7 linked regions of the Homo sapiens genome follow. The protein of the gene in region 6 interacts with the protein of the main gene of each other region in a pairwise test. Each region holds a gene or a part of one and is shown on either strand. Other genes may lie near its edges. The genes, in order: TTC23, TTLL10, SYT6, CRY2, LMO3, MTUS2 and TCEA2.

What was found.
Region 1: the proteins of MTUS2 (region 6) and TTC23 interact in binary tests that used the Homo sapiens proteins (3 or more experiments, as listed by UniProt).
Region 2: the proteins of MTUS2 (region 6) and TTLL10 interact in binary tests that used the Homo sapiens proteins (3 or more experiments, as listed by UniProt).
Region 3: the proteins of MTUS2 (region 6) and SYT6 interact in binary tests that used the Homo sapiens proteins (3 or more experiments, as listed by UniProt).
Region 4: the proteins of MTUS2 (region 6) and CRY2 interact in binary tests that used the Homo sapiens proteins (3 or more experiments, as listed by UniProt).
Region 5: the proteins of MTUS2 (region 6) and LMO3 interact in binary tests that used the Homo sapiens proteins (3 or more experiments, as listed by UniProt).
Region 7: the proteins of MTUS2 (region 6) and TCEA2 interact in binary tests that used the Homo sapiens proteins (3 or more experiments, as listed by UniProt).

The regions. Positions count from the first base shown.
Region 1 is NC_000015.10:99,222,043-99,226,288, forward strand, and holds part of TTC23 (tetratricopeptide repeat protein 23), read right to left. Parts: intron 3,505-4,246; exon of another isoform or gene 3,342-3,504; intron 1-3,341. UniProt on the Homo sapiens protein: Participates positively in the ciliary Hedgehog (Hh) signaling.
Region 2 is NC_000001.11:1,190,710-1,194,955, reverse strand, and holds part of TTLL10 (inactive polyglycylase TTLL10), read right to left. Parts: intron 350-4,246; coding exon of another isoform or gene 248-349; exon of another isoform or gene 1-247. UniProt on the Homo sapiens protein: Inactive polyglycylase.
Region 3 is NC_000001.11:114,098,083-114,102,328, forward strand, and holds part of SYT6 (synaptotagmin-6), read right to left. Parts: intron 1,184-4,246; coding exon 1,012-1,183; intron 1-1,011.
Region 4 is NC_000011.10:45,860,747-45,864,992, reverse strand, and holds part of CRY2 (cryptochrome-2), read right to left. Parts: intron 4,146-4,246; coding exon 3,961-4,145; intron 2,934-3,960; coding exon 2,845-2,933; intron 1-2,844. UniProt on the Homo sapiens protein: Transcriptional repressor which forms a core component of the circadian clock.
Region 5 is NC_000012.12:16,557,171-16,561,416, forward strand, and holds part of LMO3 (LIM domain only protein 3), read right to left. Parts: intron 3,369-4,246; coding exon 3,243-3,368; intron 1-3,242.
Region 6 is NC_000013.11:28,823,339-28,827,584, reverse strand, and holds part of MTUS2 (microtubule-associated tumor suppressor candidate 2), read right to left. Parts: intron 1-4,246. UniProt on the Homo sapiens protein: Binds microtubules. Together with MAPRE1 may target the microtubule depolymerase KIF2C to the plus-end of microtubules. May regulate the dynamics of microtubules at their growing distal tip.
Region 7 is NC_000020.11:64,061,739-64,066,477, reverse strand, and holds the start of TCEA2 (transcription elongation factor A protein 2), read right to left. Parts: upstream 3,281-4,739; 5' UTR 3,166-3,280; coding exon 3,094-3,165; exon of another isoform or gene 2,126-3,093; intron 232-2,125; exon of another isoform or gene 146-231; intron 73-145; exon of another isoform or gene 3-72; coding exon 1-2. UniProt on the Homo sapiens protein: Necessary for efficient RNA polymerase II transcription elongation past template-encoded arresting sites.

The sequences.
Region 1 (4,246 bases), on a different chromosome or scaffold from region 6:
GCATGTACATCTGGTAAGATGAAACAGACAATAAACATAAGAAGTACAATTTATAGTACATTTAAGGGTGAAAAAAAGAAATAGAATTTAAAAAATAGAAAAAGTAGAGCAGACATCTAGTCATTCTCTAGGTTTCCCAGCTGCCCACCAATGAACAGCTACTACATATGCAGGCACAACAGGGGCAAATGGTAGTGTTTTCAAATAGTACACTTTGTGTGTGTGTGTATGTGTGTGTGTGTATGAGACAGGGTCTCACTCACCTGGAGTCACCCAGGCTGGAGTACAATGGCACGATATCAGCTCACTGTAGCCTCGACCTCCAGGGGGCTCGAGCAATCCTCCCACCTCAGCCTCCTGAGCAGCTGGGACCACAGGTGTGCACCACCACACCTGGCTAGTTTTTTGTATTTTTGGTAGAGATGGGATTTTGCCATGTTGCCCAGGCTGTCAAATACTATAGTTTAGCTCTCAATTCAAAACTTTCCTTAGCCATCTGCACTAGCATAGCAAATGAGATCAGCAGGACTTACAGACTTGATTAAAGCAGCAAGAAGCACAGTTTCATTCAGGGATAGGACAAAAAGAACAGAAAACTGGATTCCCAGCTCCAGGTGATCTCAGAGCAGCCATATCCTCAAAGCAGAGCTGGCAGTTTTAAAACACGGTTCCAGGCTGGGCGTGGTGGCTCAAACCTGTAATCCCAGCACTTTGGGAGGCGGAGATGGGTGAATCACAAGGTCAAGAGATCGAGACCATCCTGGCTAACATGGTGAAACCCCATCTCTACTAAAAATACAAAAAATTAGCCAGGCATGGTGGCGGCCGCCCGTAGTCCCAGCTACTCGGGAGGCTGGGGCAGGAGAATGGTGTGAACCCGGGAGGCGGAGCTTGCAGTGAGCCGATATCGTGCCACTGCATTCCAGCCTGGGCGACACAGCGAGACTCCGTCTCAAAACAAACAAACAAACAAAACCTCAGCTCCAAAATTATTTGATACTCCTTCCATTCAGAGATGGGGGTCTATGTCCCATTCCCTTTGAATCTGGGCTTTATGACTGTTTGGCCAATAGAACGTGGAGGAAATGATACAGTGCCAGTTTTCAGGCCACAGTCTAAAGGAACTGGTGGCTTTGCTTTCTGTCTCTTCTTGGGTACTCACTCTTGAAACCTGTTATGGGCTGAACTGTGTCTCCTCCCCAACCTCCCTGAATTCATATATTTAAGTCCCAATCCCCAGCACCTTATAATGTAACTGTTTTTGAAGATGAGGTCTTTAAAGAGGTGATTTAAGTTCGAAGGAGGTGTTAGGGTGGACCCTAGTCCAATACAGCTGGTATCCTTATATATGAAGAGGAAAAGACACCAGGGATGGGCATGCATATGGAGAAATGACCATGTGAGAACACAGCAAGAGGGCAGTCATCTACAAACTAAGGAGAGAGGGCTTTAGAATGAAATCAAGCCCTGCTCACACCTTGGTCTTGGACTTCCAGCCTCCAGAACTGTGAGGAAATAAACTCTGTTCTTTAAGCCACAGCATCTGTGGAATTTTGTTAGGACAGCACCACAGACTAATACAGAATCCAACCACAGTGCTGTGAGGAAGCCAACATGGCCCCATGGAGAGAAGACCCACATAGAAAGGCCTGATAGTTTGAGTGAACCATTTTGGCAGCAGATTCTCCAGACCCTTCAAGACCAGCTGATGCTGTGCGGAGCAAAGCTGAGCAAACCCCACTGAGCTCTGCAAAAACCGCAGGCTCATGAGAAAAATGAATGGCTGTTTTGGTTTTAAGCCACTAAGTTATTGGGGTGTCATGCAGCAACAGATAGTCAGAACAGCAAGAGAGATGGCTGAAGAAAGAAAGCTGAAGGGGTCAAAGCAGAGGAAGAAAGGTAAGAACAAGGACAGAGTTGTGAAGAAGATCCAGGATACACCTAGGATGCACGCCCATCAATGTCAAAGCTCAAAGGGCTTGCATTTCCACACAATTCCTACATGCATTGGAAATACCTTCACCCTAAAACAACATTTTTCTTGACAAAAATACACAGCCAGACAGTTGGCCAAAGGAGAGTCACTTTTGTGACCTAGCAGGAGGAAGCTAAGGAATACATGCTCACCATAAAGTGCTGAAAGAAGGTGGACTGTCATATTCTTTTCTACAGTAACGTTTCTTACTACAAAAATAATGTATGCTCATTGTCAAAATACAGATAAGCAAAAAGATAAAAACTAAAAATCACCTGTAAGTTTACCGCCTAGAGATATCTAGGTAGATAAATATCCCTTTATTCTTTATTTTTGTGAATCTATCTTTATATATTTTTTCTTTTTCAAAAATAGGTTCATAAACTACATGCAGGTTTACAGCTGCTGTTTTAACAATTTACGAATAACTTCTCATGTCATCTTCTATGATATAAGTTTGAATGGCTGCACAGTATTTTATTATATGACTATATCATAACTGCATTACTCAATCCACTCTTTATTGGGCATTTAGCTGTTTGTAAATTTCTTACTCACTGAATATCCTGTATGGATAGCTTTGCACATACCCATAAACATTTCCACAAAACAAATTCCCACAAATGGGATTGCTGTATAAAGGATATGCAAAATTCTGAGGCTGTGAGTAGCTATTGAAGTGCCTCTCCCAGAGGTTGTACCAGTTCATACTTTCAGCGCAGCACATGTGAGCAGAAATGCCCCTTACGTTGAACTGAGTACAAATTGTGGAGTTTTTGTTTGGTTTTTAGTTTGTCAGTTTGTCAGTTAGCCCATTTCTCCTTGATTTAGTCCACATTTTTCTCCCAAATTGATGAGGCTGAGCATCTTCATGTGTTAACTGGCTGTTTGTACTTCTTTTGGGAATCACCTTTTTATTGCCTCTAGACACAGGAAGTTTAGGGAATGACTACTTTGGAGAGAGAGAAAGAGAACAACAACTACAGTGTATGAAAGACACGGAAATGATGACAACATCATGGAATCCAGACAGACAAAAAGAGAGGTAGATCTGTTTTGATAGTGAATCTGTCCCAACTACAGATTTCCAGCGAAGAGGACGGTGCAGGCTGAGTTGGGCTTCCCTGATAATAGCCTTGGTTCTCAGGACCTGAGTAGGGATAGAGGTATACAAGAAACAGCTTGTCCTTCCTTCACGTCCTTATTTGTTACAAGGCATGGTCCAAATATCCCTATTGGTTTTCCAACCTTTATTCTACCAGTTCCAGTGACTTTAGCAATAGGCATCAGTAAGGGGCAGACAGAAGACAAGCACGAAGTAGGAAGGCAATTTCAAAACTGGGAGGAACCTTGGAAATCATCTCACCTGGTCCCCTCAGTTTAAAGATGAAGGAGTCTAAGGCTGGAAAGTCGAGATGATTTACCAGCAAGTGGTAGCGCCAGGAAGTGGTTAAACCGTAAGGGGATGCATTGAGGACTCAGGAGCCAGCTGGAAGGGTCTCTCACTGGCAGATACGGAACAATCCGAGCTTCCATGAAAATAACAGGTTGTAGTGTATTTGAAAAATACAATTTCCTGAACCCATACTGATAGGAATAAATGAATGATAAATAAGCTGTGAAGAAAGAAAAGCTCTTCCTTATAATAGAATGCCAACAAACAAATGTTGAAATAATGTGGAAGTCAGAGACTGGCTATGTGACAAACATCATAGTAATAACTGATTCAGGTGGCAGAGTGAAGTTTTAAATATATACATAGTCTCAGTGAATCTACCCACAAAATACTTATTAATTACAAAGGGAAAAATGGCAATTCTGCAGTAAAGAAACCTGCCAGACAGCACCTTAACCAAGTGTTCAAGGTTGGCATCACTGTACGAAGACAAACAGACATTCTGCACCTCCTGACAGGACGCACTAAGGAGCGCCCCATGTCACACCTGTGGTAGTCCTGCTCCAAATGTACAATCTGAATAGAATCATGAGGAAGCATAAGACGAACTCAAACAGAGAGATATTCTACAAAACAATTAGAGTATATATTTCCAAGATATCAAGATCATGAAAAACAAAGTAGGTTAAGCAATTGTTTCAGATTAAAGGAGACTAAAGAGACATGACAACTCTATTTAACATGAATTCACAGACTGAACCATGGGTCTGATTGTTTTCTGTAAAGGACATTATTAAGAAGAAATATAAACAAGGTTTACAGATTAGATAATAGTATTATACTGACATTAATTTCCTAATTACGATCACTGTACT
Region 2 (4,246 bases), on a different chromosome or scaffold from region 6:
TGTGGGTGGGACACTGTCAAATGGACCAACATATGCATAATGGGAGTCCCAGAAGGAGAGAAGAGAAAGGAGCAGAAACAATATTTGAAAAAATAATGGCAGAAAACTTCCCAGTTTAATGAAAAACAACCTACACATTCAAGAAGCTCAATGAACTCAAAGTAGGATAAACTCAGAGATCCACCACCTCATCAGCAAACTTCCAAAAGACAGAGAACGTCGAAATCAGCAGGAGAGAAGCCGCTCGTTATGTATGAGGCATCCACAGAAAGATGAACAGCCAGTTTCTCATTAGAGGTCGTGAGGTGGGCAGGCAGTGGGATGGCACAAATTCCCAAAAGTAAAAATACTGTTGACCAAAAATTCTACATCTAGCAAAAGCTGCTTCAAAAATGAAGGGGAGATTAAGACATTCCCAGATAAACAAAGGTAGACCCGCCCTACCGTCCTTCAGGCTGAAATGAAAAGACACTAGACAGTAACTGGAACTCACAGGAGGAAATAAAGAGCCCCAGAAAAGGTCATTGTGTAATTAAATATAAGAGACAGCATACATGTATTTTTTTGTATGTGATTGTTTTGTCCTAAAAGACAACTGTATACAACAATAATTATGAATCCATGTTGATGGACACAAATATACTGAGCTGTAATTTGTGACAACAGCATGAGAGGGGTGGGGCTGTGTAGGAGGAGTGTTTTTGTATACTTTTAGGAGCAGTGTGTTTTTGTATGCTTTTGAAATTAACTTGGTATTAATAAAAAACTGAATTGTTTATTTTAAAACATTTTTTATTTTAGAAACAGGGTCTTGTTCTGTCACCTAGGCTGGGGTAATGTGGTTTGATTGTGGCTCACTGCAGCCTTGACCTCCTGGGCTCAAGTGATCCTCCCATCTCAGCCCCCTAAATAGCTAGGAGGACTACAGGTGCACACTCCCATGCTGAGCTAATTTTGTTTTTTAGAGATGGGGTCTCACTATGTTGCCCAGGCTGCTTTCAAATGCCTGGCCTCATATGATCTTCTTGCCTCAGCCTCCCAAAGCACTGGGATTACAGGCATAAGCCACCACACTCACCCTAATTGTAGTAAATTAAGATACAATATTAATGGTAATCCTCAGGACAACCACTAAAATAACTCAAAAACATATAGTAAAATAAATGACAAGGTAATTAAAATGCTACACTAAGCCAGGCGTGGTGGCTCACGCCTGTAATCCCAGCACCCTGGGAAGCTGAGGCGGGTAGATCACCTGAGGTCAGCAGTTTGAGATCAGCCTGGCCAACATAGTGAAACCCCGTCTCTACTAAAAATACAAAAAATTAGCCGGGTGTGGTGGCATGCGCCTGTAATCCCAGCTACTAGGGAGGCTGAGGCAGGAGAATCGCTTGAATCCGGGAGGCGGGGGCTGCAGTGAGCCGAGATCACGCCACTGCACTCCAGCCTGGGCAACAAGAGCGAAACTCCGTTTCAAAAAAAAAAAGCTACACTAGAAAATATCTCTCTAAAACAATAGGAGGCAGTAATGGAGAAACTGAGGAACAAAAAAAGACAGACATAGAAAACAAATAACAAAATAGCATATGTAAATCCTACCTTATCAGTAATTATTATTATTATTATTTTTTGAGACGGAGTCTCGCTCTGTCACCCAGGCTGGAGTGCAATGGCGCAATCTTGGCTCACTGCAAGCTCCGCCTCCTGGGTTCACGCCATTCTCCTGCCTCAGCCTCCCGAGCAGCTGGGACTACAGTTGCTCACCACCACGCCTGGCTAATGTTTTGTATTTTTAGTAGAGACGGGGTTTCACCGTGTTAGCCAGGATGGTCTCAATCCCTGACCTTGTGATCCACCTGCCTTGGCCTCCCAAAGGGCTGGCATTACAGGCGTGAGCCACCGTGCCCGGCCCTTTATCAGTAATTATATTAAATGTAAGTGAATTAAACTTTCCAATTAATAGACATTGACGGAGTTTCTTAAAAAAACATGATATACCATCTACAAAAGATACTTTAGTTTCAGAGACAAAAATAGGTGGAAAGTAAAGGGATGGAAAAAGATGTACCACACACGGTAACCAAAGTAGAACTGGAGTGTCTACACTCATACCAACTGGAGTGTCTACACTCATACCAACTGGAGTGTCTACACTCATACCAACTGGAGTGTCTACACTGATATGAACAACTGGAGTGTCTACACTCATACCAACTGGAGTGTCTACACTGATATCAACTGGAGTGTCTACACTCATACCAACTGGAGTGTTTACACTGATACGAACTGGAGTGTCTACACTCATACCAACTGGAGTGTCTACACTCATACCAACTGGAGTGTCTACACTGATATCAATTGGAGTGTCTACACTGATATCAACTGGATTGTCTACACTCATACCAACTGGAGTGTCTACACTCATACCAACTGGAGTGTCTACACTGATATCAACTGGAGTGTCTACACTGATACGAACTGGAGTGTCTACACTCATACCAACTGGAGTGTCTACACTCATACCAACTGGAGTGTCTACATTCATATCAACTGGAGTGTCTACACTTATACCAACTGGAGTGTCTACACTCATATCACAGAAAATAGACTTTACACAAAAATTATTACTGCAGATTAAAGGAAAATTTTTATAACGATAAACCAAGAAGATCTAATAATCATAAACATACACACACCCAACAACAGAGCCTCGAAATATACAAAAAACTGACAGATCTGAAGGGAGAAGTAGACAACTGAATATCCCGCTTTCAATACAGAGACAGAAGATTAACGAGTAAATAGAAGACTCGAACAACATTATAAACCAAACAGACCTAACAGACATGTTGGGAGCAGGCCCCCCCCCAAAATCTGGCCATAAACTGGCCCCAAGACTGGCCATAAACAAATCTCTGCAGCACTGTGACATGTTCACAATGGCCCTAACGCCCACGCTGGGAGGTTGTGGGTTGACGGGAATGAGGGCAAGGAACACCTGGCCCGCCCAGGGCGGAAAACCGCTGAAAGGCGTTCTTAAGCCACAAACAATAGCAGGAGCGATCTGTGTCTTAAGGGCGTGTTCCTGATGCAGTTAACTAGCCCAACCTATTCCTTTAATTTGGCCCATCCCTTCGTTTCCCGTAAGGGATACTTTTAGTTAACTGAATATCTATAGAAACAATGCTATGACTGGTTTGCTGTTACTAAATATGTGGGTAAATCTCTGTTCAGGGCTGTCAGCTCTGAAGGTTGTGAGGCCCCTGATTTCCCACTTCACACCTCTGTATTTCTCTGTGTGTGTCTTTAATTCCTCTAGCGCCGCCGGGTTAGGGTCTCCCCGACCGAGCTGGTCTCGGCACAGACATCTACAGAACACTACACCCAAAAACAGGATACACCTCCTTCTCCAGTGCACATGGATATTCTCCAGGATAGACCATATGCTGGGACATAAACAAGTTTCAAGTGTTTTTTGTTTTTGTTTTTTAATGATCCACTTAATGAATAGTAAGTTTGTTGTTTTTTTAAAGATGGGGTTTTGCTGTGTTGCCCAGGCTGGACTCAAACTCCTGGGCTTAAGCAATGTTTCCATCTCAGCCTCCTGAGTAGCTGGAATTACAGGTATGTGCCAACACACCAGCTCCAATAATTTTTCAATAATTTTTAAAGGGTTGAAATTATAAAGTATGTTCTCTGACACAATGGAATGAAATTAGAAGTCAATAACAGAAGGAAAATTGGAAAAATCACAAATATGTGGAAATTAAATAACAGGCCCTTAAGCAACCAATGGGTCAAAGAAAAGCTTACAAAGGAAATTTAAAATACTTTGCAGCTGAGCATCATGGCTCACGCCTATAATCCCAGCACTTTGGCAGGCGGATCACCTGAGGTCAGGAGTTCAAGACCAGCCTGGCCAACATGGTGAAACCCCCATCTCTACTAATAATACAAACAAAATTAGCCAGGCGTGGTGGCAGGTGCCTGTAATCCCAGCTACTCGGGAGGCTGAGGCAGGAGAATCGCTTGAACCCGGGAGGCAGAGGCTGCAGTGAGCTGAGATTGCGCCATTACACTCCAGCCTAGGTGACAAGAGCGAAACTCCATCTCAAATAAAATAAAAAATAAAAATAAAAATACTTTGAGACAAATGAAAATGAAGACAACACGCAAAATCTTATGGATGCAGCAAAAGTGGTGGTCAGAGGAAAATGTATAGCACTAAGCACCTACCTTAAGCAAG
Region 3 (4,246 bases), on a different chromosome or scaffold from region 6:
TGAGCAAAGGTTATAAACTTGTTTGGAATCTCAAGAAGTGGTGGGCAGATAGCCTGAGTATGCGAGGTGAGACAGTCTAAGTCTCTTCACTTATTTGACCCCGCCAACACATTACAACCTCACTGAGACATCAGTATTTGCAAATAAATCGACAGTCTCTGAGCACCATTTCTCCAAAACCCCAGTGGCTGGAATGTGATTTATTCACTCGGTAAGAACATCAATTATCTCTTAAGTATGTTCGTCAATACTATGCCTGAGAACTTGGGCTGAAAGTCCTGTATTGAGGCTTTATTGCATGGTTTCTTTCTCCTTTAGCTAAAGTGACAAGTGGAGAGAAGAAGTTATGGGGACCAGAGTAGTTGAAAAATGTTTTTGAGCCAGCCTAGATGGAAGAGCAGGATGAGTGGAAGAGACGAAAAATATCTGAGGAAGGGGAGATCCGATTGGATGGATATGCTGGGTCCAGATTAGGGAAGGCCATCAGAGTCCAAGGGAAAAGCCTGGATCACAGGAGCCATTGATGGTTCTTGAGAAGGGCAGGTCCAGGAAGAAAGCTGTCATTTAGGAAGATGTGTCCTTAGTATGTTGACCGAATTGTGGCAGGAATTGATGGAGGCAGGGGTCAGCTAGGAGGCTGCACAGCCATCCCAGGGTGACAGTAGTAGCAACAGCAGAAATAGAGAGGATAGAGGGGCATTTCAAAGGCCAGATAATAGGACTTGGTGCCAGATGGAAGAATGGGAATAGCAAGGGGTGAATTCAGGGAAACTGATGGACAGAGCTGCCCCTGACGGAGATAGGCCAGTTGGGAAAAGAACTTTGAACCTTTGCTAAGGGAGAATCTATGCTCTTCCTCAAACTCCTGCACCCTTCTTGGGTACAGATAGATTTGAGGCCTGAACCCTAAAGCTGAGCCCTGAATCACAAGGTCTAAGGTCAAGGAGCCCTGTGCTGGTGCTGGAGTGGGAGTGAGGGGTAGAATTACGTCCCTCTAGGACGCCTACCTACCGATCATAGTCCATGACTGAGATGAGCAGGCTGACTTGATCCATGTTTTCCGGGGGAATGTCAAAGATGATGGCCTCATTGTAGACAGGATTGAGAGTGTTTTTCTTTATGGTTGTTTTCTTCTTCTTCAGCCTCCGCCCATCACAGAGCAAGGACACTTTCACATAGGGATCTGTGCCAATGGGGACAGAGAAAAGGGAATGGAGTATGTTAAACAGATGTCTGCAAACATCATTTGCAGCAAAGGGACCGAAGCCCTAGACCTACTGCTGCTCATCAGATGGTATCAGTGGGTTGTTAAAATAATTAAACCACCTTGTATTTATGTAGCACACCTGTCTCTGAGGACACTCTGTGCTTAATAAATGCAGAGTCTTTAGCTACCTCAGTATTCTTGGGAGAGCGCCTAATGGACTTTTACTAATGGGGAAGCTGGCCCCATATCAGACATGACACCTGCCGATAGGTATGCAGTTCACAGCCCTAAATCTCAGCTCGTCAATCCCTGGCTGACTCAAAAAGGTGATGAGGCTGAACAATGACACTATTTCTTTTACCTATGTGGAGTACTATTCTTTGAGTGGCTTTTTTGTTTTACCAGAATTACAAACCAAAGGATAAAGGTTTTGGGGCGGGGTAAAAATAGGACTCAACAATGGCCAGGGAGACACAATGTGTCAGAGTGAAATGAACAGCAACAATCACAATGCTGTTCATGTCCTCCCCACCTGACAACATAATTTTGGGTCCCATTGTCTCAATAATCCCATTTCCATTTGGCATCTAGAAGGCGTGAAGTGGCCCTGCTCTCTGCTTCCCTGGAAGCCATTTCCTGCCCACTTCTGGACAGTGGAGAATGAGGGAGCTGTGGCCCGGGGAGACTCAGGGCAGCTGGTTGACATTTCCTTTCTCAGTGGGATCTTGGATTCTCTCCATCCTGCAAAGAGATGCTTTTATTGAACTTCCATGTGCCTCCCATCCTTTTGTTTTCTTTAGTTTTCTGAATGGGTATTTCATGGTCATCTTTCTACCCTGAAATTTTCTACTCACCCAAGTGAAGTGAAACCTAGTGTATCTCATAGCACAGGTGTCTCGGTCACCATCATAATTGTTATTTATGCTGCACAGCTCAAGAAATGGGAGGGCGGCTCACAGGTAATAATAGCTTTCGAGACGCTGATGTGCTGAGACACCTTGTTGCCCAGAAGCCAGGGCTCCTGTGAATCTGTCAGGAGGTGCCAGCCAAGCAGCTGCTCCCCAGCTCTGTGATTCATAGGCATATGGTTCTATCTCCTGGACATCGAGCACCCACTAGGGCCCTGTACTCCCTGGCATCATTCAGATGGCAGATGAGGCACACATCCCTGGTGGAAATTAGGGAGAACTGTGACACCTGATCAGAAACTCCAAGCCTGAAAGGCATTTTTGTAGACACCTAAATGAGCTGCCGACTAATCCATGTGGCAGCAGTAGCTATGCCTTAACCATGGGGAGATGAGGTTGGGTTTATGGAGAGACCATGAGGTGTTTAATCAACCTGCTGTCTCAAACTACACATTTGAAAGGACCCTCTCTTAGGGATTTTCAGTAAAATGGAAGTAAGAGTTTTGAGAACCGGCATGAGGCTCTGGTTTCCACAGATTCCATTCTCTATGGATATGCCCCAGGACATTATTCAGGTTCAGGTAGACAGATGGGCAGAGCTAGCCCCAATACCTGTCTTTAACACAGCAGCTTGCAAAATCCATAAGGATGTACCTTTTCTTGCAAAGTGGCTCCAGACTTGAGGTTGCTCAGGTGCCGCCTCATTCCCCTGCTCTACCTATTTCCATACACTCCCACATCAGGGCAGATTTCCATATCATGAGGCTTGGAAAAATAGAGGCAGAGCCACTTGTCCCATGGGCCACTGAGCAAATGTCTTAGCAACCTTCCCCAACTCTGTTCATCCTTACAAGGCATATCCATTTTTTTTTAAGAGACAAGGTCTTGCTGTTTTGCCCAGTCTGGTCTTGAACTTCTGGGCTCAAGTGATTCTTCCACCTCACCCTCCCGAGTAGCTGGGATTACAGGCATGAGCTACTGTGCCTGGCTGATATGAAATTTATAAAATTCAGTGCACATATTTCCCTTGCAGGAACCAACACTTTCACCAGCATCCATGAAGCCAAGCAGACAGATGACCGTTCCCTAGGCTTTTCTGGGGCAAAAGTCTGCGGTTTCTAGTGGAATGCTGGCCCCAGATGATCTTGGAGGTCCTTTCCTCTCTAACAGCCTATGATGCTCTACGCAGCTGAGGGAGGGGACACAAAGACCAGCAGTGTATTTCAGCCTCATTGTCATGGGAGCAATCAAAATCCAGCATTTAGAATGTGCTCACCACCCCTTTGTAGCATACTGGTCCTTATTATTATTTTGTGCTATTTTTAGTGTCATGGTTCTAGCAGATAGGCTTAGAGAATTGATTCAGGGCTAGTTTAGATCATTGAGAATAGGAAGATCCTGGGTTTTAGACATCAATGCCACACAATTCAAGAATAGGCAATTAATAAGCTCCATTCAATACCTAGCTTAGTCCAACATCGAATAAGTCTGGGCTGAGGGAAACCTCAAACTCATCCTCAAGAACAGGAGATCTAGTTCGAGAGGCTCCTAGCAAGTACACCCCCACTGCTTCACCCTTGGGCCAGGTTCCTCATGCTGTAAATTCAACCATCCATTCATTCGGTATCTATTTATTGAATGCTTACTGTGTTTTATCCACTGTTCCAGATACTTGCTTACATCAATGAACAAAATAGACAGAAACTTGTAATGAAAAGAAGACCCCTGGATCTTCGGAATCAAGCCAAGGTTTAATAACAGGTTCCAAACCCAGGTCAAAAAGAGGGGCAATTGTGAAAGGGAGGTTAGAACTTAGCAAGAACAAAATCTCACACCCCAAACCCTCTGATTCAGAGCAGCTTTTGTGATGACCTCAGCAGCTTCACCATAGGCTTTCTCTCCAGCACATCAATTTAATTACACCAGAGAAGATAGTGTGGGGACTTAGGCAGCAAAATCCTATTTCCCTCAGCAGCCTTGAGAGTCTTCAGTGAATTTTCTTCCCTGTTATGCACTTATTTTGGTATTAAAATGAAATCTACATTGGCTGTATTTTAGGGGAAGCTGACTTGCTGCTGCCTAAGCTTTTCCCAGGCCAGAAGAGGTCCGTTAATCTCTTCCCCACATCCTG
Region 4 (4,246 bases), on a different chromosome or scaffold from region 6:
CGGTCAGGAGTTTGAGACCAGTCAGGCCAACAGGGTGAAACCCTGTCTCTACTAAAAGGACAACAATTAGCCAGGCATGATTGTGGGAGCCTGTAATCCCAGCTACTCAGTTTTCTTTTTTTTTTGAGACAGAGTCTCATTCTGTCAACCAGGCTGGAGTGCAGTGGCATGATCTCGTCTCACTGCAACCTCCGCCTCCCAGGTTCAAGCGATTCTCGTGCCTCAACCTCCCAAGTAGCTGGGATTACAGGCACTCGCCACCATGCCTAACTAGTTTTTGTATTTTTAGTAGAGATGAGGTTTCACTATGTTGGCCAGGCTGGTCTCGAACTCCTGACTTCAAGTGCTCCACCTGCCTCGGCCTCCCAAAGTGCTGGGATTCTTTTTCTTTTATTTCTGAGACCCCACTCTCTGTCACCCAGGCAGGAGTGCAGTGGCATGACTTCCTGGGCTTAAGTGATTCTCCCACCTCAGCCTCCCAAGTAGTTGGCACTACAGGCACATGCTGCCACACCCGGCTAATTTGTTTTTATTTAGAGATGAGGGCTTGTCATGTTGCCCAGGCTGGTTTTGAACTCCTAGGTTCAAGAGATCCTCCTGCCTTGGCCTCCCAAAGTGCTAAGATTACAGGTGTGAGTCACTGTGCCTGGCCTTAAAAAAAACTTTAATATGTTATTTAATTTTCTTTTAATCTGCACATTTTATGCCATTTTTTTCTTTTCCTTTCCATTGTTCTGGGAAAGAATCCAGGCCATCTGACTTGCCAAGATTCCCACAGTCTGGATTTTGCTGACTGTATACTCATGGTGCAGTTCAACAAGTGCTGTGTCCTGTGTATCACCTGCACATTGGTGGCTAGTACCAGAAACTGGACTGGACTCAGGTTTGATCCCTTTGACAAGACTACAGGGGGCACATAATGCTTGCCTCCTTCTATGGTGTCAGCAGTCACCAATACATAATGCATCATTATTGAGGGTTACAAAATGGTGGTATTCAAATTCCACCATTCCTTTTTAATTTAATAATCAGAATACTTTTATAGAGAGATGCTTGCCCTCATCTACTATTGAGTAACCCAGTGGTAAAGATCATGTAGCTTCCTCTGCTTTTCAGTAACAGCATCTCATATTCCTGTGGAGAATCAGCCTTCCCTGATCCTAGTCCGAGTGGATAAAGCAGAGCTAAACCTACCTTCCAGTTCTGGGAGCGGACTCATGATGCAAGTCTGGCCAGGGAAAGCACCACCTCCTATACCTGGCCACAGTCATTGAGTCAGGGACAGTCACATGACCCAAACCAGGACAATGAAAACATGCCTTGGGACTTTTCCTGGTGCTTTCGGAAAAGAGGCACATACCTTCTTCTATCTAGTATTGCTAAACTGGCATGAGTAGGTGCTCCCTTCAGATTTGGAGAACTGAAGGAAGCTAAAATAAACATCCTGAAATCAGGTTCAACTCCTGTATCTCTAGCACCATTTGTTCTCCCAGATGTGCAGGACACAGTATTTCCTCTGGGCACCACTGAGTCTGAATATGTCCATGGCGTAAGGGCCCTTGAGAGAAGGGGCCCGCTCTCTGGGGGTATGTGGAAAAGGAGCTCCTGTCGGTGACCTAAGGGACATCCTTCTACAAAATGTTCTCCAGCTGATAAAAACTAACCATAGATGATAGCTCTTTACAGGTTTAAGCCTTACTCTACTCCTGCAATCCCATTTGTCATCTCCACCCTTCTGCCCCTTGGCCCAACCTTTGTCTTCAAACTGGGCCCAAGAATCTCTAGGTGAACCTTTTGATGTGGACAGAGATAGCTAGTCTCATCCTTTAAGTCTGTGGGGCTTGCTTTCGTCCCAGGCTGAAGGAAACAACCAGGTAGAAACATCGAGGCTGTGGGCCTTCACTGTTGACTGGACACCTCCAGGGCTGGAGAACATTCTTCCCAAGTAGATTTGCCTTGGCCTCCTTGTTCTATTATCGTCATCATCTGGCTGCTAGGCAAAATACCTAGCCATCTTAGCAGGCATAGAAAAAGCTGACATTTTATAAACCAGCTGCAGGGGGCAGGAAACTAGGAGCTGACTGTTCTCGGACATGAGAACTTTCTCTGCTCCTCTAGCTGCAGGGGAGTGAGGACTTTGTGACACTGTGCCTCTGAGGCCTGGGCTTCTTTCCTCCCCAGTTCTCACTGCACTGGGAGGTGGGCCATTTGCTCTGTGTCCAAGCATATGGAAATCAACACGCTGAAAGAGTTCCAGCAAAAAGGTGCGGAGACACATCAACACAAAATAATCTTATAGATTTTACTAACCAGATATCCTCTTAGTAGGGGGAACCTGCCCACAGATGAAAGAAAAGCAATCCGACATAGCTTTAGAATAACATAGAACAAGGTCTTACTGTGTTATAAGGTGAGCATTCCTAATTCAAGAATCTAAAATCTGAAACACTTTTGGTCCCAAGCACTTTGGATAAGGGATACTCAACCTGTAATTACTAACTTTGTGACCTCAGGCAAGTTACTTAACCTCTCTAAGCCTCAATTTTGTAATCTGTAGAATGAACAGCTTAGTACCTACCTTGCAGGCTATTGGAAAGATTAAAAGAAATGCCAGCAGGTGCTTAACCCAGAAATGCTGAGCCTAGTGACCAGCACATGGTAAGTACTCTCTAAATGGTAGTTGCTGTTAGTGTTGCTGTTGTTATGGCCATCAGGAGGATAGGAGGATTTTTCATTTTCCAAACAATGTGAGCTAAGAGGGACTAAAGGACATGGACATGACCTGTATCTCCTGCTGTGTGGATATCAGTATCTGCAGCTCTGTGTCTCAGAAACGGCCCATACCTTCCGTTCCAAGTGCTTATCCAGGCGGGCCAGAGCTTCTGTCTCTCCTCCCTGCCAGACAGCTGGACCAAGTCCTTCAGTGGGGAACCCTGAAGAGAAGGAAAGGTCACAAGACAGGAGGTTTGACCATTTCAGTGATAGCCCGGCACGGCTGTTCTGTTATTTGAACTTTATGAGAATTGAACCACAGTGTCTCGGTGCTACTGGGGGTTAGATAATCCTTAAAGTTTTAGCGTTTTCTAGGTCAACTTGGTTCTCTTCCCACAGTCACTATTTTCTCTGCTTTCCCCTGCACCCTCATCGCTCCAGGTAGATGACAACAATCCCGGACCTCCTGCCTTTTCAGATTAGCTGGCAACAACTGTGGTTTTCAGGTGAAAAAGGCTAATAGCTTTGTTCAGATCAAAAGACTGGAGGTGTGGCTCACGTCTGTAATCCCAGCACTTTGGGAGGCCGATGTGGGTGGATCACTCGAGGTCACCAGTTCAAGACCAGCCTGGCCAACATGGTGAAACCCCGTCTCTACTAAAAATACAAATATTAGCTGGGCGTGATGGCAGGCGCCTGTAGTCCCAGCTACTCAGGAGGCTGGGGCAGCAGAATTGCTTGAACCCGGGAGGTGGAGGTTGCAGTGAGCCAAGACTGTGCCACTGCACTCCAGACTGGGCAACAGAGCCAGACTCCGTCTAAAAAAGAAAAAAAAAAGGTAAGAAAGAGGGAGGGGTGAAAGAGTGTAGTTAGTAATCTGAGAGGCTGACAGATTCCCTGCTTTCAACAGAAGCAATACTAGCTATCTTGTTACTGAGAAGCCCATGGACACCAGCACCAGGCAGTGCCTGTATTGTCTGCGAGAGGTTAGTACAAAAATAGAGGCATGATCTAGAACCAGAAACAGAAGATTACATGTATGAGTATGAACAGAACAAATACTAGAAGGACACAGTTTAAAATTAATTGTGGTTACCTCTGGGTGGTGGAGTAATAGTGACTGCCATTTCCATTTTTGTTTTCCTGTGCTTTCTAACCTTTCTATAATGACATGCATTACTTTCACAAAGAATTTCTTTACACAAAAGCAGGCACCAGCACAAGTGGCTCTGGGCAGGAAGTACGCACCCAGCTCCTCCAGGGAGGGCACGCCGTAGGTCTCGTCGTGGTTCTCCTGGATCTCGGCCCTGCAGCTCTCCATCTGCTGGCTGGTCACCAAGCCCACTGGCTTCTTGGGCAGCTCCATGCGGCTGATGATGGCCTGAAAGCGCTTGTATGTAAGGGGTGGCTTCTGCCCATTCAGCTCAATGATCCTGGGGAGCCCAAAGCATAGCTAGTGTTACCCACATGGCCCTGTGATGTGGGTCCCTGCCCACCCAAAAAAGAACCCAGACTCTGAAGGCTTTGAGGGTGG
Region 5 (4,246 bases), on a different chromosome or scaffold from region 6:
TAGCACTTGAATGTTTTTATTTTCTATGTAGAACATGGATAAAATAGGTAACCCTACTTAATAGAAGAAAATGGACAAAGGACATAAACTGCCTACTTCTCTAAAAGAAGGAATACCAAAGGACCACCAGGGATCAAATAAATGCCAGTTAGAAATTATAATGAAATACTATCTTTCATCCCTTAAGGTGGCAAGGATTTTTTTTTTTTTTTTTTAAACGTAATTCCTAGTGTTTTAGAATGAATGTGAGGGAATGCGTAGTTTTGTAGATTTCTGCTAGGAGAATAATTGGTATAACTTTCCTGGAGATCATTAAGCAATGTACAGCATATGCCTTCAAACTGTTATATACCTTGTTTAAGTAATCATGCTCTGTGAATTTAACCAGATAGAGATATGAGCATTTGTTTTTATACAATCTGAATATCTACATTTAGCAAGAAACTCTATTGTGATATATGTCTTGTGGGAAAGTCAAGTTAGTGGACTATTATTTGGTAAATTATAAAAATAACTAACTTTTGAGAACCAGTTGTGTTCCTGACATTTAACATAAATTATTTTATTGAAGTTTCAGACTCTGCAAGAGAGGTATTAGTGTTTCTATTTTGTAGGTGTGGGAATCAAATTCAGAGAGATTAAGTAACATACTCAAGATCACACAGTTAATATATCAGCTACTATATGGTGGTGCTGAAATCTGAATCTCTTCTCACTATAAATGTCACATTCTTTCTACTATTCTACAGGGTCTCATAAGGTCCATTTTTATATTGATAATACTGATAATATTTACAGCACAAAAACTTTTGAAGATACAACTTATATATCTGATGATAGAAGACATATGTGAAGCTCTGTCCATAAAGCTGAACTCAGAAAAGCTTAAAATATCTTAAAAGAATTTTTAATGGCAGGTAAAAAAGGCACAAAATATAAATTGAGTGAAAAAGTCCAAATATCAAACATTAGGATTCTCCCTTGTAACTTTAATTTGCTTAAATGTGAGTGTAATATTTATACAATGTCATTTGTCCTATAGACATAGGAACATGTATGGCTGGCTATATATCAAAATATTAAAATGTTTTCTTTTAGAAGAATGAGACATGGGACAATGTCTTGTTTTTATCATTTTCTATTTTCTAAATTTCCTACTATGAATATGTAATCTTTTATAAGTAGAAAAGCAATGACTTTATGATTCCATAATGGGAACTGCATGGTTACTGGCTGCTATTAGTTGATCAACATGACAAGTCAACAAAAGTATTCTAAATTTACTACTAAGACACCTTTAAAATGTATAAAATACATATATACATGCACATAAAGGTGTCTGTATGGATGTGGGAATGTTTGTGTTTGTATATCCTTATCCCTACCAAAAACATGTGCATTTGCCAATTTATTTTCGTCTAAATGTTACCCTAGACTGAATGAACTTACTTTGATTCTCAGTACTTGCTGGGAAGAGTCAAGACATTGTAAGATAACATCTTACATGACTGTCTGGGTAACTATTACATTATAAGGTACATTAGGCAACAATCTGAATATCTACATTTAGCAAGAAACACTATTGTGATACATGCCTTGTGGGAAAGTCAAGTTAATGGAATATTATTTGGTAAATTATAAAGATAACTAACTTTTGAGAACCTGTTGTGTTCCTGACATTTAATATAAATTAATTATTTCATTTAAGTTTCAAACTCTGCAAGAGAGGTGTTAGTGTTTCTATTTTATGGGTGTGGGAATCAAATTCAGAGAGATTAAGTAACATACTCAAGATCACACAGCTAATATATCAGCTAATATATGGTGGTGCTGAAATTTGAATCCCGTTCTCACTAGAAATGTCACATTCTTTCTACTATTCTACAGGGTCTCATAAGAAGATTCTGCATCAAATAGTACCTTTCAGAGTAAATTACAATAACTGAGAACTTGATGCAACTAATATTTATTGATTATATACTCTGCCAGGTGTTCTCACAGAAAGTCAGTGAATTCATTTTCATTAAAATCTATCAAGTGTTCTAATTTTTGAAATGTTGTATTTTTAATACGTACATTTTAATGTTCTAAAATCCTCTCCATTTATCATATAAAACAGGTGCCAGTAGTATATAGTTTTCACAGAAATAAAAAATATAACTTTCAATAAGAAAAAATGGAATTAAGTGATAATACTTTTCAGCTGAAAGAATTCTCTGAGATGAACTAATCCAGCTTCATATGTTACAAATGAAAAACCTGAGGTCCAGAGAGGGAAGGTGTTTGTTTGGTTTAAGATCGCACAGCTTATTAGTGGCAGAGCCCATATTAGAATTTAGGTTTCCAGGTTCCCTGTTCAACACTTTTTCAAATGCTCCTCTCCAATGATAATAATTGTTTAATTATTAGCTATATCTGGACTGATTCTCAAAGATATTTGAAGTAACTGCAAAAGTACATATAGGACAGGGTTAAAATTTAAGGTAAACAGCTAGATTGGGTGGGGGTGGTGGCTCATGCCTATAATCCCTGCACTTTGGGAGGTGGAGGTGGGAGGATTGCTTGAGGCCAGGAGTTTGAGACCAGCCTGGGTAACATAGTGAAACTCCATCATCTCTATAAAAAATGAAAAAAAAAAAAAATTAGCCAGGCATGGGAGTGCACACCTGTACTCCCAGCTACTCGGGAGGCTGAGGCAGGAGGATTGCTTGAGCACAGAAGTTGAGGCTGCATGAGCCATGTTAGTGCCACTGCGCTCTAGGCTGGGTGACAGAACCAGACCTTGTATTTAAAAAAGCAAAAACAAAAACATGAGGGATAAGGAATTTAAAATATAAAAAATAATAAGAATATAAAATACCTGCAACAAATTCCTGTATATTTGCTTCATTGCCAATTTATTTACTCACATAAGTAGTATAAAAAAGTAGATATTTAAAACTACTTTTAAAAAGACAGGAAAATAATAAAAGAAGGAATGAGTAAAAGAAGTCAGAGTTTACGGTAGTGTTTCCATTTTCTGTTACTTGCTCTTATATGATGCTTTTCTTTCAGGTAGAAGTAAGTCTTAAGACCTTTCTTCTCCTTAGTAGCTTGTCTCTGGCATGGGATTAAAGTTTACAGAACAGAAAAACGCTGAGATTGATTGCTTTAAATGTATGAATATAATTTCCACCTATTAAATAAATAGCCAGCACAGAGAGGTTAACCATTTCTTAGAGACCAAAAAGAGACCTGCTTACCTCTGATTACAAAGCTGACATGCAAAGCAGTCCAGGTGGTAAACATTGTCCTTGGCACGCATCACCATCTCAAAGGCAGGGATGAGCTTACTACAGGCAGCGCAGTTTCCCGTTACACCAAAGAGCCTAGAATAAGAAACATTTTTTTTTTTTTACAAACTCTTACAGAGAAATCTGAGATCGTGAAGAGAGATGATGTTAATATACTCTGTAAAGCTACAATACACAATGCTTTATGATGTACACAAGTGGATTTTATCCTAGGTGTATGCATAAATATTCTTCTGCAATATATTCTCCGTTGACCTTCCTTGATGAAAATCACATCTTGTTTGAGAAGAAAAGGAAAAGACAAATACATTAGGAAGCTTACGTAACTGCACATAAACAGAAGTCAATGGGGGTGAATTCATAGCAAAAATCTCTGGGTTAGAGTATATAGAAAATATAAAAGCAATATAACTTTGCTCTTAATGTTATATATTAAACATTTTAGTTGGGAAAGGAACCAACTAATGAATGATTCACTACTTTTTGACATTTAGTTACTAAAAGGTTTGCCATTATTATTAAAAATACATTTATGAAGAAGCCATTTAAATAGTCAAAAAACATAGAGGCGCATGCATGCACCTTATGGCTCTATACCATAGTTATAGCTATGATTATGTTATTCAAGTAGCACATTAAAGTAAATGAGGCTGTAAACTATATATAGCTAGACCAGAAATTGAAGGATAATATACTGTCAGAACCACTGGAATTGTCTAGGATTTAAAAAAAATTCCTATTTGCTGCAGATTCCTGAGAATCGTTATTGTAATGACCTAAAAGAAGTACAAAATAAAATGTCTCTCATTTCATAACGTGAGGAAATATTTTATCCATTTGCACTGGCAATATTTAAACCAAGTTTCTTTAAAGTTGATAATGGAGGGGAAGAATTATTACAAATAATATTCCATGCATAGTAGTTAATGCACTTTTTTACTAGGAAGCAAACT
Region 6 (4,246 bases):
AAGAAATGTGGCTGCAGGTCACATTCCTGCTTTTATTGTTATTCTCTAAACTGAGATATTAATGCTAACTCACATTTATATTTTATTCCAATATCCTGGGCCATTATCAAAATTATAATCCTAAAATTTAGCAGAAAAATTTCAGTATAAAGTTTGGGGGTAGAGGACAATGTATTTATATTAAAATAACTTCAAAATCTGCTAGTAGTGGCAAATTAGCTCACTCAATATAAAACTAATTACTACCTGCCAGTTAAACTAATACAATGTGGATTTAAAAAAAAAGAATACTTGCTAGAGTCTTCAGAAAACTAAACCTAATGTTTGGCATGTTCACTGTACAAACTTCCAATGATACCATGTAACACTAATGGAAAATGCATCAGGCTTAGAAACATCAATTTCAACCAAAATTATTCTGCTACATGATTTCAATTCTCAAATTAACTTTCCCTGAAATAAACTGATAGTAATATAAGAATTAGAAGCAAAAAAATGTGTTTGGCTTAATATGTGGCAACATTTCCAACCTGAGAACACAATTATTTGTGTGTAGAAAAATACTGCCTGTCTTGAGAAGCTATTTTCAATGAGTAATGTCAAACAGCTTAGCACAAAGATAATTAATTCAGGATGATTTGAGATTACTTCTCCCGTATTTACAGAGCTAGTGTTCATATTAAATTTTTAGACTAGTACTCTGCAGTAGCAATCTGATGAAGTGTGGAAAATAAACTTCCCTATTAAGTGTTATTTGCTTCTGCTGTTTTATTATCATTTATTGTAATCCAAGGCTATATATTCCTGGCTTTCTCTATTGTACTTTTGGGGAAAAGCACTTAAAATCAGTGTATCAATATCAGCCTGTTTCTGGACAAATGTATTTGCCTTATTACAGTCTTCATAGACGCTAATGCATTATGTTGGCTTTTCATTTCTGCAAGGTGAGTCAAACTTTCTAAAGTCAGTATCAGGCCATCATCAATACTGGTTTGGCCCTAATCACACACACTGCTGGCTTATCTATAATGACTGTGTGTAAACACTCTTTTGTTTTTCTATGGGAACTGAACATACTGGTACAATGGGTCTACAGTAAACAGAGTAAAAAGACTAATAAGGAGAGGACCTCAGAGATCATATAGCCTATCCTCTCTGGGACAAGGGAAGTACATTTGGCTGAAATACAATAATCTTGTTTTTAAAATCTCTCAACAGATAAACAGTCTCGTCTTCTATCTAGTCTGATAATAAAAAATAGAAATAAAGAGACCAAAGTAATCATTTTTTATCTATTCATTCATCTAACCATGTATTTTAAATTTATTGATTTATTTACTTATTTAGCAGATGATATGACCATCTATCTGGAAAATCCAAGGAAAATAACCACAAAACAAGGTTATAATTAATAAGAGCTTGAAAAGTGCTTGGTTACATTACATTTTAGAATAGCTTTCTATATATCAATTATTGGTTATATGTAATACAACCAACATATAGAATATATACAACCAATTAGAAGAAGGCCCACTTACAAAAGCTAAAGAGGAGTATCAAATACCCAGGAATGACCTTAAGTTCCCCATTTTCCAAATACAATAGGGCACGTGAGAGAAGCTTGCAAAGTAAGAGACCACATGAAGTCATGACAGGCACAGAGAAGAGTCAGGAACACCAGACTCCTATAAATGCCACCTCCCCAATGCCAGCTGCATATGCTCACTCAAGCTGCTGTGATGCTCCCTACCCACCAGCAAACAATCCAAGGAACCTCTATATGAGAGATTTGTGTTTTGGTTGTTGAGAGTTTAAAATGGTTACAAGCTAACAGCTTAAAAAATGAAACAGCTATCCCATCCTGGTTCCATACCCCTGTCCCCATGAGTATAGAAAGGCTGTAACTAAAAACCAGCAGACAGGCCCTGGCTGCTGCTCCCCAATGGTTTCTTCACCTTCTCCATGGAGAAATTCATGACAGCCTGTTGCCAGGGGTGTGTGTGTGTGTGTTGTTCTGGTTAGCAGATGTTGAGCAGCCATCTGGGCATGCAGGAGCCTCGGTCAATGACTGAGTAATTTCCCCTCCTCAAACCCTAACCAACCCCAGTTCCCTTTAAGCTGGGGATTCTCTCTAGGCTCAGTTCAAATCAGAAAGTTGTTCTAGGTTCCTGATATTAAGACATTCCTCGAGAAAGAGCCGTGTGGTTTCCACTGTCCACATCTTTTATACATCATAGTTCCATTTGTTCCCAGGGTGACTGCAGGGAATCCAGGCTGGAGTGAGCTTGCCCCCAGCCTCTTTCCTATGACAAACCAGTGGGAGCCATCATTGAAAACATACACTCTCATTCCTTACTCCTATTCAGGTATGGTCTAGGCTGGATTCCGATGCCCTGAGAGGTCCTCAGTTCCAAGCCACCATACCACTAAGGCCCCAAGAACAACACCAGTGTTCGTGGGCAGCCTCAGGTGGCTGGAGTGGGGGATGGGGCTGCTGTCATGAGGAAAAGCTGGCCATGAGCATGAGATTCCCCCACTGCGGCCTGCAGCTGCCTCCCTGTGCTCCCCACAAATGCCAGCTGCACTCTGGTCAGGTGGCTCACTCTTCCATCTCCTTTAGGGCTCTGCTCAACATCTCCTTTCAGTGAGGCATTCCCTGACCACACTACTTGAAATAGCAATTCCCCATAACCCACTCCTGCTCCCCCATCTCTGATTTATTTTCTCCATAGCAGTATCCATACCTGATATATTAAGTACTTAACCTCATCTGATTCATTCCATTACACTGTAAGTTCCTCAAGGATGCAGTTTTTGTCTGTTTTATTTGCTGCTCTATACCTAATATGTAAAAGTGCCTGGCCTATGGAGACACTCAAACTTTTTTGTTGGATGGTGTTTAAAAAAAAAAAAAAAAGCTAGACACTGGTTAAAGGCAGTAAAGACAGATTTTACCCAGTACAACTGCAGTGAGAGAAAGAGACTTCAGTATAGAACTGAGCTCAACTCCAATTCAGGTAGAGGTGACTGGGTGTTTTAAAGGGAGAATAAGGAAGTAGGGAGGAGAAATGAGAATGTGTGGGGGCTCAAGCAGGGTCAAGGACACAGAACATTACAGCAATCAGGCAAGGGGGCTTGCCAATGAGACTAGGCCATCTGTGACTGCTAAATGGCACTTGTCAAAGTTAGGCTCCTACCCATCTACAGAGACTAGAGGACAGAGCCCTATCCTCCCTGATGATTACACTTCAAAGGAATGGCTCACAGACACTGAGGAAGACACTCCAGGTGGTAGGAGATACACATATATCTCAAAGGCACAGAGAAAGAATTACAATTGTAAGTTTTTAATAAACGATCTAACAAAATGAAAGTCAGGGGCCTATTATCATTTGTGTGGGCTAGAACAAAAGATAAATTCTTTGGGGCAGCCTTGAGCTTTTCTAGGTAGGAATGCAAGTGAGGCTGGGTGATCCCAGACACATGGCCTTAGGCTGCTAGATGCCATGTTATATGGTTTGGCTGTGTCCCCACCCAAATGTCATCATGAATTATAATTCCCATAATCCCCATGTGTCATGAGAGGGACTAGGTGGGAGGTAATTTAATCATGGGGGAACTACCCTCATGTTGTTCTCGCGACAGTAAGTTCTCATGAAATCTGCTGGTTTTATACGGTGTTTTTCCCCCTTTTGCTCATTTTTCTCTCCTGCTGCCATGTGAAGAAGGACGTGTTTGCTTCCCCTTCCACCGTGATTCTATGTTTCCTGAGGCCTCCCCAGCCATGCTGAACTATATGAGTCAATTAAACCTCTTTCCTTTATATATTACCCAGTCTTGGGTATGTCTTTATCAGCAAGGTGAGAACAGGCTAATACACCATGCTACAGTGTTTTCAAATCCGTTGGAGGGTGGGAGCACAGACAAAATTGTTTGTGTTGAAAGCTGCAGTTCTTACGGGCCAAGGTTGAGGCCCAGTTGAGAAGAGGGCTCAGGGGAGCCTGACTAAAGTTTGGTCAAAAAGAGAGTCTCTGTGGATGGGTGGGTGGATGGTAGATAGATGACTGATGGATGGGTAATTGATAGACAAGGTATACCCGTTGGTGGGAAGGGTCAAGATGATAAGATCTAAAGGCATCCAAATTCACATAGGAAGTAGAAATCATTTCAGAGAAAAGGGGAAACTCCTTGACTCTTTTCAACAACTCGTTTCAAACATGTGTGTGGTAGATATTATAAGCCTCCC
Region 7 (4,739 bases), on a different chromosome or scaffold from region 6:
TCCTGGAAGGAGAAGGAGGACCTTCATAAAGGACTTTAGATCTCAACAGACAATATCACCTCCTTCTGCCTACTGGAGGAGAACACAAGGCAGTGACAATTTGGAGATTCAACCTGGGGTCAAAAAGAAACCAAAATTCCTCTACCTGGAGACACCCAGGGCTCTGCCCACATGTTCCTGCACCACAGCAGGGAACCCTTACTGCTCAGTCAAGAAGGGGAGGGGTTCTGCAGCCTCAAGCATTCCAAGTTGTAACCCACATCCGTGGCAATGACCTCACTGACTTCGTTGTAACCACCTCAGGTCACTGACCCAAACCAGAACAGAAATGCCAGCTCCCCTGGCCAATCATGAGGCTTCAGAGCCACGGCCCCTCCCCAGCAGCCAGGGCCACACCCAGGTGAAACTGCAGCCCCAGGTTCATTCACTCCCCTGTGTCTTGATGCCCTGATGCGCAGGGCAGCCTCTCCCCAAAGCACCCCCCGCCCACCAGCTGTGAAGGGCCAACCCAGGAACATCAGTGTCCCGAGCTGAGGCCAAACTCTCATGAAGGGCCAACCCGGGAACATCAGTGTCCCGAGCTGAGGCCAAACTTTCAAGGGTCCCTCCACTCCAGGCACGGCCACAGCCAACACCTACAAGGCCCACAGCCCCCCTCCTCATCTATCCTCCAGGCCTCTGAGTTGCCCCCAAGCAGGCCAGCACCCCTCGCCTGGACTGTTCCAATGCACCTCGTTCTCTCCGCCTTGTCTCCCCACCCAAGATCTGCGTTTCCTCCAGGTCCTCAACACTGACGAGGCCAGGCACAAACCGGTCACATTTCCACACCAGGCCCGGCAACTCAGTGCTCCCCAAGGGCGCTGAGCCGCCACCGAGGCCCTCTGCACCTGCAGCTCCACCGCCTGGGGCGGCCTCCCACAACGTCTCCCTCCCTCCCTCCCTCCCTCCCGGGCTTTATTTCAACAACACCTTCTCAGCAAGGCCTCTCCTGTTTAAAACTGCAACTGTGCCCTGCAACACCCCATCTCCTCTGTAACACGTGCATGTGTTTCCACGTGTGTATCATTCCCTCTGCCCTAAGGTGACCTGATCAGAGTCCCACGACCCACAGGCCATGGGAGGGGCTTGTCCCACCTACCGCCCGCACAACCCCAGCAATCCGGGTGGCATAGTCTGCTCACGCTGCAGCCCCTCCTGAGCCCTCCCAGGCAGGCCCTGCCTCTTGGGCTGTACAGAGTCCAGCCTTGAGGTGATAGCCAGAGCCAAGGCCACTGTCCCCTGAAAGCCCTGCACCTGCTTACGTGGCTCTCAGTGGGCTCAGGTCCAGAGGCAAAAAAACCCCCACACCTGGCCCCCAGGTCCCCGAGGGGACCTCAGGCACTGGGACCCCCAGGAGGCTCTGCTGGCTCCCACTCCCCACTGCACAGCGCCCGCCTCCCCTCCTCATTCTCCCCTGGGGCTTCTACTCAAGCTGTTCTTCCACCAGAAACCCCCCATCAGTTCTGCCCAGCCCCACCCAGCCCTCCCCTGGCTCCATGACCCATCTTTGCTTCTCCCACCTACAGCTTTTATCGTTTGTGTTTTGTCTCCTTTAAGAAGGGGAACAACTCCATTCTCGGGTCATCTCTGGAAACAGCTATGAATGGTTCGCAGACCCCTACTTTGTGCTGACCAGTTTTCCGGGGTGTGTGTGAACGCAATGATGGGGGTGCTGCACCCAGCAGGAATGAGTGGGAGCCCACCCCTTCCCAGGGCAGACCCCAGTCCAGAACGCTGGTCACAGGAACCCAGACTCAACCCTGCTCAGCCCAAAAAGCTTCCCCCAAACCCCCACTGCAGTCACACAGCCCTGGGGTGGCTGCACAAATCACCCAAAGCCCATGACTCAGCCACCTTCACCGCCCTGGGCTGGCCTGGCAGACACACAGCTGGCCCTGCCCCAGGAGTTCACAGTCTGGGTGGGAAAGCACAGGTCACGTTTATTGAGCCAGCCAGGAGCTCCAAATGACCTGCGGCCAGACCCCTCCCCACCCCCCAGGAGGCAGGCAGCATCCTCTAAAGATGCTTCTGTGGGAGGGTGCAGAGGTTGCCAAGGTCATGACGCTGGAACTGGACCCCCACTGACCTGGCCCCTTCAAAGTCCTCACACACAGCCTCCTCCAAAGTCTCGCTGTGGCCGCAAGACAACAGAGGCCCAGGCCGCAGTGAACAGAGCCGGCCAGAGGCTCCAGCGCCCAGACACTCCCAGAGGAGGCTTGCCCGACCTCCTGGCTCTTATATAAGCACACCGGCTCTTTTCGGAGGGTGTCCACATAACTACCCACAACCCAAGTTGCTGCGGGCTAAGTCCTGGCTAAAGAAGGGAGAGAATTTATTAGAGAAACCTGGTTCTTGTGGGGTGGGGACAGACAGGGAAGAAAATGGGCCCACAGGCAAGACAGGTATCTGGCTGGCCTGTGAAGGAGGATGACAAGGGCTGGGAAGAGGCAGGGGAGGCACGGAAGCTCCAGAAGAAAAGGGGATCCAACCTCAGACTCCAAACTGTTGCCGGCGACAAATGCTATGGGAGACGGAGGGTGACAAACGCTGTAAGAGACGGAGCGTGGGAGAGGGCTGAGTTGGGGGGCGGGGCTCGGCCTGTGAGGATGCCCAGGCCGGGATGGAGGAAGGCAAGGGGCTGGCGCGGCCCGCAGAGGAGGCCCGAACACCCCGGGGGCTCCGAGAGGCGGGACAGGGCCAAGGAAGGAGTCGACGGGCCAGGCTGGGGGTCTGGAGTTAAGGGACAGGGAAGGGTGCGGAGCCTGTGACTGCGGGCGAGGGAGGGGTCTGAGTCCAGAGCGGGTGGCTCTCCCGGGACAAGGTCCAGGCCTGATCGCGGCCTCTGCCGGGGTTGCGGGAGTGAACGGCAGGGCTGGCCCGGGGCAGGGGTCTCGGCCACGGGTGGGGGTCTCCCCTGCGTCCCGGTTAGTCTCTGCCGGGGAGGGGTCTCGTCCTGCCCCTCAGGTCGTCTTCCGGCCCTAACGGGGGTCGGCGGGCTCGACGGGGTCTCGGCGGGGCGGGGTTCCCGGGGTCCTGGCGGCCCGCGCCCCTCACCGCGCTCTTCTTGGTCACCATCTTGTCCAGCCTCCGGGCGATCCGCGCAATCTCCTCTTCCTTGCCCATCATCGCCTCAGGAGCAGCGACCCCCGCGCCCGTCGCGCCCGCCTCCGCAGCCGGGCAGGACCCCGGCCCCGGCCGTCGCCACCTCCCACACCCGCCGCAGCCGACGCAGCCCCGCCGCGGACGACAGACCCCCGGTTCAAACCCTCGGCCCCGCGGCCGCGCGCGGCATCCTAGGATGCGTAGTCCACGCGCCCGCCTGCCGCGCCCGCCGCGCCCGCGCTCTGGACCACAACTCCCAGGCGCCACGCGGCGCGCACAGCCTCCTGGGAAGTGTAGTCCTGACCCACCGTCGCCAGTGACTCGTGATCCCACAATACCCCGCGAGGGAGGCGCCCCGGGCACGCCCCTCCCAGAGCTCAGACATCCCGGAGCGACCGGGCCCCAGGAGGCCCAGGAATCTGCTCCCTTCTCTCCTCCTGCTTCGGGCCTTGCTGTCCCGCGGCGTCCTTCGGTGGGTGGCTCAGGACCCAGTGCCCTCAGCCCTTCTCTTGGGCCCCGCTGAGCCCTGCGCGCGCCCCACTTGGCCTAGAAGGCCGTCCCCAGCCTCCCAGAGCCCAGTTTGGGTCATTCGGGCTTCTGAGTAGAGTTACTTCTTCAAGAGGCCCGCGCACACTGGGAGGCCTCTTGTGGGGCCCTGCAGGTGTGAGCGCGCGGTAGCTGGACGTGGCGTCTGGAAGGGGCCATTGCTGGGGTTCGCGAAGTGCGGGGGCCTCTGCCGAGGCTGCGTGGGCAAGGCCCCTGCCTGCAAAGTCAGCTACCAGGGAGCAGATTCTGGGCTCTGCACGTTGACCACTGTGTCTCAGTCTCCCCACCTGTGAAACTGGAGTTAAGTGTCCGCCTCACAGGGCTCCCGTCAAGATGATGTCAGCTGATTCACATCACATGCCTGAGAACAGAGAGGGGATGGAGCATGACAATTAGTGTTCATTGACATTGTTGTTGGAGGTCCCTAGGTAGGGCCAGACTGCAGGCAGCCAGAGAGATGGCCCAGGCCTAGGGAGGGTTGAGGACGGGGACAGGTGCAGGGCCAGCATCCCCACCACTGCCTGGCAGCTCCCCAGTAATGCAGATGCTGGGTGGTTTCCTGGAGAGGGCACAATCCTGGGGGAGGGTGTGGATCAAGGAGCCTGTAGTCATTCAAGTTCAGGCCAACGAACTATGAGGCCAGGTGGCAGGTGGAATGGGCTGAGCATTTCTTGGGCTGTCTGTGGCACTAATCACATATAACTGAGCTTCCCCGCAGCCAAAATGAAAAGGAAAATATGGTCAGTTAAGAGACTCATCTTAGCCGGGCAATAGTGGCTCATGCCTGTAATCCCAGCGCTTTGGGAGGCCCAGGCGGGTGGATCACCTGAGGTCAGGAGTTCGAGACCAGCCTGGCCAATATGGTGAAACCCCGTCTCTACAAAGAATACAAAAACTAGCCAGGTGTGGTGCCGGGCACCTGTAATCTCAGCTACTTGGGAGGCTAAGGCAGGAGAATTGCTGGAACCCGGAAGGCGGAGGTTGCAGTGAGCCAAGATAGCACCATTGCACTCCAGCCCTGGCCAACAACAGCGAGACTCCGTCTCAAAAGA